Regions from separate parts of the Homo sapiens genome. Here region 2 is linked to region 1. The links come from fine-mapping of genetic effects on gene expression. Tissue or cell type: whole blood. Region 1 holds a variant in brackets; the other region holds the start of a gene. All regions are shown on one strand. Distances are from middle to middle.

Region 1 (8,102 bases):
CCACAAGATTAGATAAAGTATATGGAATATTTACATATCAGTCTTACGAAGAGCAAACTATTCAGACCCACTTATCTTGATTCAGCTATTCTAATTGTAAAAAGACTACTGAAGGTTAAAAATTTCAGTTGACTATTTTCTCCTAAAGTAGGATAAGCTAGGCTTTTAGGAAAAAAATAGGGTTGAAATAAATTGTTTAGAAAATTGATCAAAAGTAGTAGTTACTCAGTACTCTCTCTCTCAGCGCTCACTCTCTTTCTGTCTCTCTCTGTCTCTCTGTGTGTGTGTGTGTGTGTGTGTGTGTGTGTGTATTTAGAAAAAGAGTAGAATGGAAAGATTAGAAATAGAGCATGAAAGGCTGGGGAAGGGAAGTTGCTGTGAATAACAGAACTTCTGCCTTTACCTGGGAAAATATATCTTTACTTTTGTCGCTACATTATTGACTCTGAAAGATCACATGAGTCCTCTTTCTTGAAATAATATTTTTGTGTTTGTAACTGCTGACACGACTGGTACTTAAATTTTGAGAGAATAAACTTTTTGAAAATTTTTTTGACCATTAATAAAAAACTTTTTTTTCATTTCCTACAGTACATGGATTTTCTTTTTTTTTTTTTTTTTTTAAGACAGGGTCTTGTTCTATCTCTCAGGCTAGATTGCAGCGGCGCAAACACAGCTTGCTGTAGCCTTGAACTCTTGGGCTCAAGCCATCCTTCCATCTGAGCCTCCCAGGTAGCTCGGACTACAGGTGTGTGGTCTCCCTATGTTGCCCAAGCTGGTTTTGAACCCCTAGGCTCAAGTGGTCTTCCTGCCTTGGTCTCCCTCAGTGCTGGGATTACAGGTGTGAGCCATTGCACCTGGCTAGACAGCTGATTGGCTGGGCGCGGTGGCTCACCTGTAATCCCAGCATTTTGGGAGGCCGAGGTGGGCGGATCACCTGAGGTTGGGAGTTTGAGACCAGCCTGACCAACATGGAGAAACCCCATCTCTTATTAAAAATACAAAATCAGCCGGGTATGGTGGCACATGCCTATAATCCCAGCTGCTAGGGAGGTTGAGGCAGGAGAATTACTTGAACCTGGGAGGCAGAGGTTGCAGTGAGCCGAGATCGCGCCATTGCACCCCAGCCTGGGCAACAAGAGTGAAACTCCATCTCAAAAAAAAAAAAAAAAAAAAAGCGGATCACGAGGTCAGGATATCAAGACCATCCTGGCCAACATGGTGAAACCCCATCTCTACTAAAATACAAAAAATTTGCCAGGCCTGGTGGCGCACGCCTAGGGGATTGCTTGAACCCGGGAGGCAGAGGTTGCAGTGAGCCAAGAGTGCACCACTGCCCTCCAGCTTGGTGACAGAGTGGGACTCCATGTCAAAAAAAAAAAAAAAACGGTTAGATGCAAATATCAAAAATGAGTTAAAAAATATCTTTGGTGTGGCTTCAATTTTATTAACTATTTTAATATTGCAGACCCATATCTTCCCTTAATTATACTGAATTTAGTATATTTGTTAAAAAATAAAGTTTTAAGACTACCTGTTTTGGTATCAAAATTAGTTTTTTTTTTTTCTTTTTTTTTGAGATGGAGTCTTGCTCTGTCACCTAGGCTGGAGTGCAGTGGCATGATCTCTGCTCACTGCAAGCTCCACCTTGGGTTCACACCATTCTCCTGCCTCAGCCTCCCAAGTGGCTGGGACTACAGGCACCCGCCACCACGCCCGGCTAATTTTTTTTTTAATTTTTAGTAGAGATGGGGTTTCACTGTGTTAGCCAGGATGGTCTCGATCTCCTGACCTCGTGATCCACCCGCCTTGGCCTCCCAAAGTGCTGGGATTACAGGTGTGAGCCACTGCGCCCGGCTAGGTTTTTTCAAATTGAAAATTTTTTTTCTTTTTCTTTCTTTTTTTTTTTCTTTTGAGATGGAGTCTTGCTCTTGTTGCCCAGGCTGGAGTGCAGTGGAGCAATCTCAGCTCACTGCAACCTCTGCCTCCCAGGTTCAAGTGATTCTCCTGCCTCAGCCTCCCAAGTAGCTGGGACTATAGGTGTGTGCCACCGCGCCCAACTAATTCTTGTATTTTTAGTAAAGATGGGGTTTCACCATATTGGCCAGGCTGGTCTCGAACTCCTGACCTTGTGGTCCTCCTGCCTCAGCCTCCCAAAGTGCTGGGATTACAGGCGTGAGCCACTGTGCCTGGCTTTAATTTGAAAATTTTAATGTTACAAATCAAAGGTAGGTGTTACCAAAGTATGTTAAGCATGAGCAAAAGTGCATTTGATTGTTCAGAGGGCCAAGTTCATGTTAGCTTTGGGATCATGCCTCCAGAGATGTAAGTTTAACTATTATGATAATAACAAAGTAATAATTATGCCATGTGCCAAGGATTCTATTAGACTCTTTACTATAGTTAATTAAATTTTAATCTTCACAGTGCCCTGAACAGCATATAATGGGTAAACCGAGGGACAGACAGTTTAAGAACCAGTTTAAAGGCTGGGTGTGGTGGCTCATGCCTGTATTCCCAGCATTTTGGGAGGCTGAGGTGGGCGGATCACTTGAGGTCAGGAGTTCAAGCCCAGCCTGGCCAACACGGTGAAACCTTGTCTCTACTAAAAACACGAAAAAAAAATTAGCTAGGCATGGTGGTGCGTGCCTTTAGTCCCAGCTACTCGGGAGGCTGAGGTGGGAGAATTGCTTGAACCCCGGGGATGGGGGCGGAGGTTGCAGTGAACCGAGATCATGCTACTGCACTCCAGCCTGGGTGATAGACTGAGACTCCATCTCAAAAAAAAAAAAAAAAAAAAAAAAAGAACCAGCTTAAAGTCATACAGGTAATAGGAAGTCAAGCAGAAGTTGCAAACCAGATACCTTTTGCTACCTTTACAGGCTTGCTACTCAGCCTGGCCCACAGACCAGAAGCAATTAGTGAGACCTGGGAACATAAAGAAATGCAAAATTTTGGTCACTGATACCTGCAGTGCCAAACCTGCATTTTAACAAGATCCACGAGATTTGTATGCATGTTAAAGTTTGAAAAGCACTGATGGTGTGAAATGTGGATTATCTATCAACATTTTCCACAAGAGAAGGTGGGTAACTCTAGCCAGTGTCTCCACCACTGTGAATTGCTAATCCAGCTGCTGCTTTGCTTCAGATCCTGTTTAATCCAGAGGAACAATTGACTAATTCTGCTTGTGGACCTTCGGTCAAAGTCTTAACCA[C/T]GCCAAGTATAGCTCAGTGTTTTAACAGCTTTTACTCATGGACTGAACACATCAGTTTTATAGACCATGGCTTCATTCTGGATAGGCATTTCCCAGGTTAAAGAGAACAGTGCTAAAAATAGCATTTTCTAAAGAAACTTGAAATCTTCTGGAATATTTGATGTGTTTTATGGCTAGCAAGAAAACAGATTTGTATAAACTGGCTTCCTTACTAATTTCATTTTGTGAACTTAATTATTCTATCACAGGGACAGTGATAGGTAAAGCTAACTTAGACTAGAGCAGCACTGTTCTGTAGAAATATAATGCAAGATTCCTGTAATTTTAAATTTTCTAGTAGCCACATTAAAAAAGGTAAAAAAGAGGCCAGGAGTGTTGGCTCACGCCTGGAAGGCTGAGGCGGGCAGATCGCTTGAGGCCAGGAGTTTGAGACCAGCCTGGCCAACATGGTGAAACTCCGTTTCTACCAAAAATACAAAAAAATTTAGCCAGGTACGGTGGCGCATGCCTGTAGTCCCAGCTACTCGGGAGCCTGAGGCACAAGAATCGCTTGAACCCAGGAGGCAGAGGTTGGAGATCGCACCACTGCACTCCAACCTGGGCGACAGAACAAGACTCCAGCTCAAAAAAAAAAAAAAAGTGAAATGTAGTCCAACTAAAACAATACAATTGTGTTTAGTGGAAAAATATATTGCTTCAGTTATAAAATTTAAATGAATTAAAATTAAATAAATTAAAAATTAAGTTCTTCAGTCCCATCAGCCACATTTCAATATCGGATGGTATTGGTTGCTTCTGATATAACTGATTTCAGACATATGAAATTGATCACCATCCTAGATGGTCAGTAAGTTAATGCCACAGGATATTGTAGTCTATTAATAACATTGTAGAACAGGGCCCAGTCGTTCACACCTATATTCCCAGTGCTTTGGGAGGCCAAGGTGGGAGGGTTGCTTGAGGCTAGGAGTTCAAGACCAGCCTGGGCAACATAGTGAGACCCTGTCTCTACAAAAATAAAAAAATGAAAATTAAAAAAATTATTGCACAGAGAATAAAGGAATAAAAGCAATTTGGATCATAAAGCATTTACTGATTCCCCCCTTTTCATAGTTGGAGTTAATTTTCCTTTTATTGGTTCACAATTTCTTAACTCTTCAACTGCATTAAACTGTAAGATTAGAGCCAGGAGTTAGGGTGCCATCCACTTTTCCCCTCTATGGTCTTAGATTCTTTTTTTTTTATAGCCCGCATGCTTCTTTGGAAAGTGAGGTAATTGTGTCAAATAGGATAGCCTTGAGTGGGGCCCAGAGGTTGTAAAATTTTATGTCTGTACCTGATTCACCTGGTAACTTGCTAAAAATACCGATGTCCAGGCCTACCTTTCTAGATTCGGATACATAAAGTGACACTTTCCATATTAAATAAGCTGCTCTAAGTGTTTCTGAAGTTCAGGAACGTTTGGGACCATCAGATCCAGCAATTGACTCTCAAAGGCTGCGGACTGGAATTAGTACGTCGTGCTGCCGTTGCCAGGCATTTTATATTTTCCTAGGCTGAGGCTTCCCAGGCTGTTGCTTTTTTTCCCCCCACCTTTGCAGATGGATTTTGCAGGCTGTTAAATCCCACTCCCGAAGACCTGCCCTGACAGCGCCTCTTTCCTAAGTGCTGTTACAGGGAGCTGAGCTTGCCGAGGTAGACAGTGGCCACGTGACTGCTAAACCGGTTGCCAGAGGCGCGGCCATTTTTGGGGCGGGCACCCAATCTCTCGCCCTGTAAACTGCGGGGTGACGGGACGCTGTTACTAGGACTCAAGATGGCCACCGCGCCCGCTAGTCATCTCGCTAGCCCGCGCGCCAGTGAGCTGGCACGAGACACGCGGTGGCCCACGGCGTCTGGGGACGATCTCCAGCCCTTCGCACGGGGCGGAGCGCCCGCCTTCCCTCCAATCAGCACGCCGGGCCGGCTAGCCAGGGGCCGCCCGCGCGCGGGGTGTGTGAGGACGCGCTCCCAGTCGCTGAGTGCCTGAGCCGGGAAGCAGTTGCTGTGGTACCTGCTGCTGCCCGAGCGGACGTAGAGCATCGGACGCGGGCGCCGTGGCGCTGGGCAGGAGGGCGAAGCCATGACGTCAGTCAGGTAACGAGCGGGCGGCTGCCTTGACTGCTCCGAGCTGGGCGTTAGCCTCCCGAGCGCGTGAGCACTGTCGCTCCTTCTCGCGGGTGGTCTGGAGCCTGCCTCCGCCTCTGGTCCCCCTCGTGTTGGGGGTTCCCTCCGCACTTTTCATTTGGGCATTTCTGCTTTCCTCAGAAGTTTTCGGGTCTGTGGCACATTGCGGAGTTCTGTGTGTCGCTGCTTGGTCGAGGTGACCCTCGCCCAAATTCCAGGGTTGCAAGCGTTCTTGGGTGTGTAGTGGATTTCCCATGAAAAATGTGCCCCACCCGCGCCCCCGGGGGCGGCCCAGGGCCGGAGGGAGCGTGGCGTGCACAGTGTGTGTCATGCCTGCGTGTCATGCCCTCTGACAGAACTTCATTGTTGGCCGGGAGCAGACCTGCAAAGTTGGCCCTTCTCTGATGCAGGTATATTGCCCTCAAGTTGTGAAATTGTGTGTCTCTAAAATGTTTGCTCATGACTGGAATTAGGACCCTGGTTCCCGAAGGTACCATCTTGTTTCTTTACTCCTTTTATCTCAGAGTCACAAGTGAAATGAGTTGAGAGATACTGGGCATGTAGCGAAATCCATGAAACTGGAGACTTTCCCCCAATTGCTCTTCCAGTTTGGAAGGTTCTTTTTTTGTTAATGAGGACAGGATAATGGGCTTGTCCACTTTCTCCCAGTAGCCTTGACTGAATGTTTAATTTACGCTAGTTCAACTATTTATAAAAAGAGATAAATTGCCTTATATACCCAGTGTTCTGACTGGCCTTTTTAAAAGCAGAACTTGGGCTTTGTTGTCCCAGAGAAAGGGAGGCCCCAGCACAAAAATGTGAAGAGAAATAAAATAAGCTCATTTTTGGTCTATGAGCTTTCCAGGCTCCACCCGTCCTGGTGATTTGAGGGCTTCTCAATGCCAATTTTTACTACATTGTGTTTAAGAGACAGCTTGGGAACCTAACCCTCAGTAAGATCTAACTGTGCTGAACTCGGACATAGTCTGTCTCTTAAATTGCATAATTATATATATATATATATATATATTTTTTTTTTTTTGAGACAGAGTTTCGCTCTTGTTGCCCAGGCTGGAGTGCAATGGCGCGCTCTCTGCTCACTGCAATCTCCGCCTCCCGGGTTCAAACGATTCTCCTGCCTCAGCCATCCAAGTAGCTGGAATTATAGGCGCCAGCCACCACACCCAGCTAATTTTGTAGTTTTAGTAGAGATGGGGGTTTCACCATATTGGCCAGGCTGGTCTCGAACTCCTGACCTCAAGTGATCCACCTGCCTTAGCCTCCCAAAGTGTTGGGATTACAGGAGTGAGCCACCGCTACTGGTCTAAATTGCTTCATTCTGTACTAACATAGACAAAGTACTTATCTCATTATGCAGAAGGAGATTCAGGTGCTGAAACATGGAGACCCACATGGAAGGATTTCACAGTAAATTATATTGGGGCATATAAATCTAGCTTTTAAAGCTAACAGTATTTTAGGATGAATTAGAATTAGGCTATTATACCCAGAGTTAATTCCCCTTCTTCCCATTCCCACTCTTATTATCACAGAATGCTACTAATTAGGTGTAGGGGTCAAATACTTTCTGTGTTAAGAATCAGTTGTTATGTGGATTCAGTTTTAATTGACTATCATCTTCCTGACCGTGCCTCATTGGAGAAACATCCAAATCTAAAGCTTCTGCTGTTTAATAAGTGACAGCAGGATGTATCTTTTACTGTAGGGGTTGATAGTTTTTTTTAAAAGACTGATGTAAAGGTTGACACCAGCCTTACTTGACATGTTTTGAAAGGATGGATAACTGATAATAAAATTTATTTATGCTTGTTTCTTCAGATGTCAGTCTGTATTTTACATAATCTTGAACTATGGTAACATGGCTCGAGAAAGCTCTTTTAGATGTTATTTAAACCAGCTATTACATTTTACACCTGAGGAAACTGAGACAAAAGTTGAGTGCCTTGTGCAAAATCAGCGGCAAAATTAGGAATTGAATCCAGATTTCCATGATTTAGTGCTCTGCATGGTGCCTTTGTAGAAACAATATACTATTTAAACTTCCTGAAAAAGCTGTTTCTGTGGACAGAAATTGTAAAGTATCATGAGAGACAACTATAGTAACTCTTTTGCTTTCTTCTTATCCTGCAACGAACTTGATAACTGGGGTTTAGAAGTAGGCAGGGTTAGCCAAGAGAACACAACTACTGGGTGTTGGGAAGTGCAGGGAGGCCATTGAAAGTGAAGTGACTCTGTATGGTGATAGTTTTGAATGAGTTGGTCATCCTACAGATACCAGCCATTTCCTGGTGAACACTACATTTAATACAATTATGTCATATCTTTAGTTTTTGCAATAATGATGTCAGACATGTTCCTATCAGAGGCATTTGAGCCAGAGCGACTCCATCTTGAATAGGGTCTGGGTAAAATAAGGCTGAGACCTACCAGGGTGCATTCCTAGGAGGTTAGGCATTCTTAGTCACAGGATGAGATAGGAGATAGTCAGAAGATACAGGTCACAAAGACCCTACAACAGGATGCAGTAAAGAAGCCAGCAAAAACTCACCAAAACCAAGATGGTGATGAGAGTGACTTCTGGTCATCCTCACTGCTTATTATACACTAATTATAATGTATTAGCATGCTAAAATACACTCCCACCAGTGCCATTGACAGTTTACAAATGCCATGGCAACGTTCAGACCTTACCCTATAT
Region 2 (8,102 bases), 180 kb before region 1:
TTTATTATTATTATTATTATTTTTGAGATGGAGTCTCGCTCTACTGCCCAGGCTGGAGTGCAGTGGCGCAATCTCCGCTCACTGCAAGCTCCGCCTCCCAGGTTCACGCCATTCTCCTTCCTCAGCCGCCCGAGTAGCTGGGACTACAGGTGCCCGCAACCACATCCAGCTAATTTTTTGTATTTTTAGTAGAGACGGGGTTTCACCGTGTTAGCCAGGATGGTCTCGATCTCTCGACCTCGTGATCCACCCGCCTCGGCCTCCGAAAGTGCTGGGATTACAGGCGTGAGCCACCACGCCCGGCCTTATTATTACTATTTTTTGAGACGGAGTCTCGCTCTGTCACCAGGCTGGAGTACAGTGGCATGATCTCAGCTCACTGCAACCTCTGCCTCCCGGGTTCAAGTGATTCTCCTGCCTCAGCCTCCCAAGTAGCTGGGACTACAGGCACGCACCACCATGCCCAGCTAATTTTTGTATTTTTAGTAGAGACGGAGTTTCACCATGTTGGCCAGGATGGTCTCGATCTTTTGACCTCATGATCCACCCGCCTTAGCCTCCCAAAGTGCTGGGATTACAGGTGTGAGCCACCGCGCCTGGCCACAACACTCATTTATTATCTCACAACTGTGTAGGTCAGAAGTCCTGCATGGTGTGACTGGGTTCTCTGCTCAGTGTCGCAAAGCTGAAATAAAGGTGTCTACTGGACTGAAAACAAGGTGTCCCCTGGAGCTCTCAGCTGGAGGAAAAATCTGTTTCCAAGATCATTCTTCTTGTTGGTAGAGTTCAGCTCCTTGTAACTGTGCGACCAACTTCCCCGTTTCCTTGCTAGCTGTCAGGGGCCACTCTCAGCTCCTAGGGGCTGCCCACATACCTTGACCCATGGCCTCCCACGTCTTTAATCTAGCAACAGCTCATCAAATCCTCTTGTGCTTTTGAGTTCATTTGTTGTAACTGGCCAGAGAAAACTCTCTGCTTTAAAAGAGCTCATGTGATTAGGTCAAGCCCACTTGGATAATCTCCCTGTTTTAAGACCAACTGTGCTATATAATGTAATCTGATTATGAAAGTAAAATCCCTTATAGTCACAGCCTGGGGATTATGGAGAGTGTGTATATTCGGAGTGAGAAATCCCGGGGGACATCTTAGAATTCTGTCTACCACAATAGGTAAGAGTTAGACAAGCACTGATAGCTTTCTAGGTGGGAAAGAAATGTGGAGAAAAGCTCAAAAGTGAAACTCTACCAGGAATTTCTGGAGACTGTGAATATGTCAGTTTGTGACTGCTCTAATAATGATAATGGTTTCTTTTACTGAAGGTCTCCTAGGTGCTTTACAAATTCCCTTACATCAGCTCTGTGACGGTGCTATTATCCCACTTGCCGGAGTTATATCTCCATCAAGTTGTGAAGCTGGGGTTCTGGCTTGAGCTCTGGATGGCTCTGAATTTATGCTGTTTGCACTGTTTAACCTGCCTGTCTGTGGGTCTAAGGTGGGGAAGCTGAAGGCAGTAAGGTTGGTCTGGACCCAGATTGTGGAGGGCATTGGTGTTAACACATGCTAACAGGCACCAAGAAAGATTTTAGAGGGAGCCAGTGAATGTGGAAATCAGGGGGACGGAAATGGGTATGATTATGGATGTTGGGGAGCACATGGGCTGGATGTGCAATGTGATATTCTTTTTGGGAGGTTAATATGGCCAGTCAGGCATTAAAGATGATTACATGATCAAGCCTCTGAGTCTTCCTGCCAATCTGTAGGAAATATATAGTTCAGAAGAACAAGTTAAACTACACATAAATATACAATCAGCAAAGTGGGGACAGGGTGAGGATTTAACAAAATCATACACTTTTTGGGAGGCTATATATACTTTGGGAGGCCATTTATACTTTGGGAGGCCAAGGCAGGTGGATTTCTTGAGTCCAGGAGTTTGAGATCAGCCTGGACAACATGGCGAAACCTTGTCTCTATCAAAAATACAAAAATTAGCCGGGCGTGGTGGCATGCACCTGTGGTCCCAGCTACTTGGGATGCTGAGGTGGGAGAATCACCTGAGCCTGGGGAGGTCAAGGCTGCAGTGAGCCGAAATCACACCACTGCACTCCAGCCTGGACAATCGGAGTGAGACCCTATCTCAAAAAATAAAAACATAAATAAAAATAAATAAAATAAAATAATTTTTAAAATAAAAAAATCATATCGTTCCATCACTCAACTTTTTTTTTTTTGGACAGGGAGTCTCACTCTGTTGCTCAGGCTAGAGTGCAATGGCACGGTATCAGCTCACTGCAACCTCCACCTCCCAGGTTCAAGCAAGTCTCCTGTCTCAGCCTCCCGATTAGCTGGGATTACAGGCACCTGCCACCACACCTGGCTAATTTTTGTATTTTTAGTTGAGACGGGGTTTCACCAGGTTGGCCAGGCTGGTCTTGAACCCCTGACCTCAGGTGATCTGCCTGCCTCAGCCTCCCAAAATGCTGGGATTACAGGCGTGAGCCACCGTGCCTGGCCCCATCACCCAAATATTTATACTATTAACACAAAGTAATGGGCAGAGAAAACAGCTGTGGTGGTTGTGGTAGGACTAGACAAAAATTTTCATTTGATGTGAGAATCTTTTGCTTGGAGGCATTACTGAAAGTGTTTACCTCAGAATGGGAAAGCTTGGGCAAAAGCGAATTTGAAGTAAGTAAGACGTTTGGAAGATGTCTTTTTTTTTTTTTTTTTTTTTTTGAGACAGAGTCTTGCTCTGTCGCCCAGGATGGAGTGTAGTGGCGCGATCTCCGCTCACTGCAAGCTCCGCCTCCCGGGTTCACGCCATTGTCCTGCCTCAGCCTCATGAGTAACTGGGACTACAGGCGCCCGCCACCACGCCTGGCTATTTTTTTTGTATTTTTAGTAGATACGGGGTTTCACCGTGTTAGACAGGATGGCCTAGATCTCCTGACCTCGTGATCCGCCCGCCTCAGCCTCCCAAAGTGCTGGGATTACAGGCGTGAGCCATCGCGCCCGGCCTGGAAGATGTCTTATACAAAGCGTGAGGGAACTGGATAATTTGGTCTTACCTATCAAAATATAAAATGCATATACTTTTGCGTTTTTCTCTTTCCTGGTAGGCATTTGCGCTAGATAAATACACAGATGCACAGCACAGGGGTAAGTACAATTCATGCAGAATTGTTTTTTAATAGTGAAAACCAGGACCCAACCCAAGTCCATGAGTAGGAAATTGGTTCTGTAAATAGTTTTATTTCATGCAATGGAATATCATGCAGTCATTAAGAAGAATGAGGTAGACCTCTACCAGCAGTGAAAGATAAGGGCATTTTAATCAAGGGCAATCATACCTAGTTCCAGGAAAATGTTTATTAATCTCATTTAGTTAGAAAATATATATGTAGAAGTGAATCTATAGACAAGTCTAGAAGGCTACACACCCAGCTGTTAAACAGAATGTCTTTGAGGAGGGCAGGGGGCGGAGTCTGCGTTTACGTGAATGGGACGCTGCTGTTTCTCAGTGCACCTCTGCTGTTTGAATCTTTTACTAAAAACCTTCCCATGCATTGCTGGGAGGGAATGGAAGGAGTATTTTGAGGGTTTCGTGTGAAGGGAAAAGTTGAGGAGGGGACGTGGGAGACCCCTTGGTCTCATCAAACTCTAGCGCCGCTTGAGGTGAGGAGACCCCGCCCCGCTGAGGTGATTCTGCAGAGGGGCGGAGCCCCCCAGATCCGAGGCGGGAGGCGGCCCGGGGGCGGGACCAGCCGGCTCCAGCGGCCCGCTCCGCTCCCACCATGCCCTTATAAGGAGCGCCCGGCGTTAGGGCTCGGGAATCCGGTAGCAATCCCGGCGGCTCAGCCCCAATCCCAGGCCCCTCCCTTAGGAATGGGGGAGGGGCGGGGTTTGGCGGCGCGGTGGCTGGGGCGGAGCATCTCGAAAAGGGACCAGTAGGAGTGGCGGCCCAGGTCTGAGCTGCGCTGCCATTGGGCGCGGCGACGAGAGGGGGCGGGGAGCCCGTGAGGCTGGTTACGCCGAGGGAAGCCCCGACTCCGTAGTCGCTGCACAGTCTGTCTCTTCGCCGGTTCCCGGCCCCGTGGATCCTACTTCTCTGTCGCCCGCGGTTCGCCGCCCCGCTCGCCGCCGCGATGCCAGTGTTTCATACGCGCACGATCGAGAGCATCCTGGAGCCGGTGGCACAGCAGATCTCCCACCTGGTGATAATGCACGAGGAGGGCGAGGTGGACGGCAAAGCCATTCCTGACCTCACCGCGCCCGTGGCCGCCGTGCAGGCGGCCGTCAGCAACCTCGTCCGGGTGAGCGCGCAGGGCCTGGCGCGGGAGCGGGCGCGGGAGGTATCCCCGGGGCCCCGGCCCGCGTCGCGGCTGCCTGTGGCCGGCTCGCTGGCCGTGGCTTTCCGCGTGGGTTCCGGAGCCAGGCGCCGAGGGTTCGAATGGCCTCTTCTCCGCCCTGTGACCTTGAGCGAGTCCTGAGCCTCTCCGGGCCTCAGTGTCCTCATCTATAAAATGGGAGCAGTCATGAAAAAGGCTGCCTTGCGGGCTTGTCGTGAAGATATGGCGAGGTATTATTCGTGGAGTGCCTCGCGCGGCGTGTGGCCCACAGCAGACACCCAATAAATGAGAGTTGCTGGGATGTCCGAGGGTCCCTGCCCCGCGCAGGCTTCGCCCCCACGTTGACTTCCTCGCTCTCAGCGCCTTTTAGGCCTCCTCGATCTGGCTGTGCGGGGGAGGGAGAGCGGGCCTTCCCACGGATCCCTTGCCTTCTCTTCTAGGGATCCTTATTTGAGCCACGTTGTCCTCCTTTCTAATACTTCTGCCCCTCACCCTGAGACCCGCCTCGCCCACCCCCGCTCCCCAGAGCTCCCTGTATTCCGCCCTTTTATTCACTTGCCTCACTCTCTGTCGCCTCCTCCTCCCTCCTGGGCATTTTACTTATGCTCACTCCTCTGGCACTCTCACACCTTTATGCAGTCATTCGTGACCACAAGCCCGGTTTTTCCTTCCGCTCAGCCCTGCTGCCCTTCCTTTCATTCCCTCCTGTGGACATTTTCACCTGGCGTTACCTGCTGTCAAACGGCCTCCTCCCACTGGGGCCTTTCTAGACTCGGGGGCCCTCCTTGGCCCCTCCTCCTGGCAGGAAGCAAGATGGAGCTGTTGGGAGAGGCCTGTGGAATCTGGGATCTGCCGCCCCTGCCGGAGAGAAGGCTGGGGCATCCGCTCCCCATCCACAACTTTCCTGGTGGCTCTGCAGACCCCTGTAACCCACAGCTGTGACTCATAACCGAGGTGATTCCTGGAGGAGGTGGAGCCCACGTCTGAAATGGGAAAAAAGAGGTGCTGAGACCAGTCTCCCAAGACTCCCCTGGCTAATGTCACACTTTTCTTTCCCACCCTGGGTGGGTGACTCAGACTGGTCCTGCTTGTGAGGAACAATTTTGGAAAAAGTTCATACTGCTCCCCCACTGAGCTGTGTAAATAGTGTGTGTCAGGGCAGTTGGGCGGCAACTGTGGGTCTGTCTGGGTGGGGCTTGGGTTACTTTTCTGATTTGAGCACTTTAGTGCACTTAGAGGCTCTTTAGCAGCTGAAAGTCTTCCTCAGTCTTCAGGGGTCCCTGGACTGTCTCAAGCAATTTAGGAGACTGGTAGCTAGGAAGACAGGGTGACACCACCGACCAAATTCCTGATCTTTCTTCTCTATAGCTTTAGTAAGAATCTATTCATTCAGTAAGAATGCTGTATTCATTCACAATGTCTACTTGTACATTGTTCTTCTTTTTATAACTAATTTGAACAGAACACTCCAGAGTACATTCTTATGTAGTGTTGTCTAACATGGCTGCATTCCAGGCCTCCATTTTTCAACAAATAGGAAACAATGTAAAGAGACAAGGTAATAGTGTCTCTCCATGTAGTACTTCAGGAAATGAAATCTTAAAACCACATGTTGCACTTGGAACAGAGCTAGTGTAGTCTAGGGGTTGATATCTGGTTAGGCTATTTAGAGAAAAGTTATTTATGGGCTTCCATGCCATGAATTAATAAGCATTGAATGTCTGCTATATGGAAAACACTGCAATAAATCAGTGCTTCTCAGCTTAAGAGTGTTCATGAAAATCATCAGTGAGGCTTTTTAGAAATTAAGATGTCCAGCTCCCACGGGTCAAGGCCTTTGTATTTTGCTTTTTTTTTTTTTTTTTTTTGAGACAGGGTCTCGCTCTGTCACGCAGGCGCTGGAGTGCAATGGCGTGATCATAGCTCACTGCAGCCTCCATCTCCTGGACTGAGAAAAATCCTCCCACCTCAGCCTCCCAAGTAGCTGAAGGCCTTTGTTTGTTTGTTTGTTTGTTTGTTTTTGAGATGGAGTCTTCCTCTGTCACGAGGCTGGAGTGCAGTGACACGATCTGGGCCCACTGCAACGTCCTCCTCCCAGGTTCAAGTGATTCTCCTGCCTTAGCCTCCCGAGTAGCTGGGACTACAGGTTCGCACCACCGTGGCCAGCTAATTTTTGTATTTTTAGTAGAGGCGGGGTTTCACCATGTTGGCCAGGATGATCTCCATCTCTTGACCTTGTGATTTGCCCGCCTCGGCCTCCCAAAGTGCTGAGATTACAGGCATGTGCCACTGTGCCCGGCCAGGCCTTCGTATTTTTTAGGAAGCTCCATAGGTGATTGTGATATACGGCCTTAGTTAGGAAACACTGTAATACACACTGTGAGACAAATACAAAAGAAATAAGGTTATAAGATGAAAACAATGATATGTAGTTAAGTTATATACTTTCCAACACATACAAAAGAGGGGACTTGAGATTGGTGGTAGCTATGGGTTAGCAGAGACAAAGTAGGGAGGATTGTGCTGATAAATAGTTAATCATGAACAAAGGTACTTGTGAGTAAGTCACTTCCAGGTTACAGCAAGTAGATTATCTTGATTGCAGCTCAGGAGACAAGTTGGAGAGAAATTGGAGATGAAGTTAGTGCGTGACATATGGGCAGTGTAACATAGGCCTTATCCAAAAGGATGAACAAAGAGAGCAGGAGGGGAAGGAGGATGAGAATAGTGTGTGAGAAAGACTGCGTGAGAATGGCGTGTGAGAATAGTATAGTGTGTTTTGGGGAGGCCAGAGGACCTACCCATTGCTTCACATTCTTGGTGCCAACTGTGACCGTTAAATATGTGGATTCTGTACATGCTTCAAGATTGTTCCTGGAGGTCAAGCCTTGTCTGATATTCCTCTCTTTTTAAAAAATTTTATTTTGGTTTTAAATAGAGACAGGGTCTTGTTATGTTGCCCAGGCTGGTCTCGAATCCCTGGGCTCAAGCAATCCTCCCGCCTTGGCCTCTCAAAGTGCTGGATTACAGTTGTGAGCTACTGTGCCTGGTCTGATATTTCTTTATATGGTCCTCAGTTCCTGCCCTCAAAATTGGCACATAGGATCACTCAATAAATATTGTTGAAGGAACTATGGGAAGGGAGACAAATTGGGAAGCTTTTAAAATTGGTTGGTTATGAAGAAAATGAAGGCCTGGACTTGCGAGTGGCAGGGAAAATGGAGAAGGAATTAATCAGAAATATATTAGAAGAAGAAATAATAGAACTGGATAATTGAACTCTGAATTTGCTAGAAAAGAAACATAGTATTACGGTAAAATAATGAAACTGATTTTAGAACAAATCTTCTGGAATTTATGTAATCTGGGTGAGTATTTCTTGGGAGTTACTTTGGGAGGTTATATCCTTATTCTAGTGCTTTTCTTTGGGAATTTCTTTCAGATTATTTACATACGTATGCCAAATTAGTCTTATTTTGGTCAAGAAAGTGTACATTTTGACTGAAGTAGGCATTCTTGAGCTCAACTACTTCATTTACTGTTCTTGAGCCTAAATGACTTTTGGATATTTCCATAATTAAAATTTACTAGATGAAGATGAAATTTTCAATTGTTGTAATAGTCATTCACTTATCAAGCAGGTGTTTATTGAGACCCCTTCCAATGTCAAAGCAATAAGTGTGATGCCTGTCACAATCAGTATGATACTGAATTGGAAGTCTTTTTTTTCTGAGATGGAGTTACGCTCTTATT

The links. PIP is the estimated chance that this variant, and not a neighbour inherited with it, causes the effect.
Region 2: it holds the start of VCL, and the variant in region 1 is fine-mapped to the expression of VCL in whole blood (TOPMed, PIP above 0.99).

Annotation. Positions count from the first base shown.
Region 1 is chr10:74,171,534-74,179,635 of GRCh38, forward strand. The region is part of intron 1 of ADK (adenosine kinase); the gene reads left to right. Among named protein-coding and RNA genes, the nearest start is that of ADK, 24 kb to the left of the region's middle. RefSeq lists enhancers at 4,269-5,215, 4,970-5,089. The variant C/T (reference allele first, on the strand shown) is at 3,218.
Region 2 is chr10:73,994,063-74,002,164 of GRCh38, forward strand. It overlaps VCL (vinculin), which reads left to right and starts at 4,054. Exons shown (of 22, transcript NM_014000.3): 1 at 4,054-4,313. The coding sequence starts at 4,146. RefSeq lists silencers at 3,663-4,022, 4,353-4,402 and enhancers at 4,083-4,282, 4,355-5,006.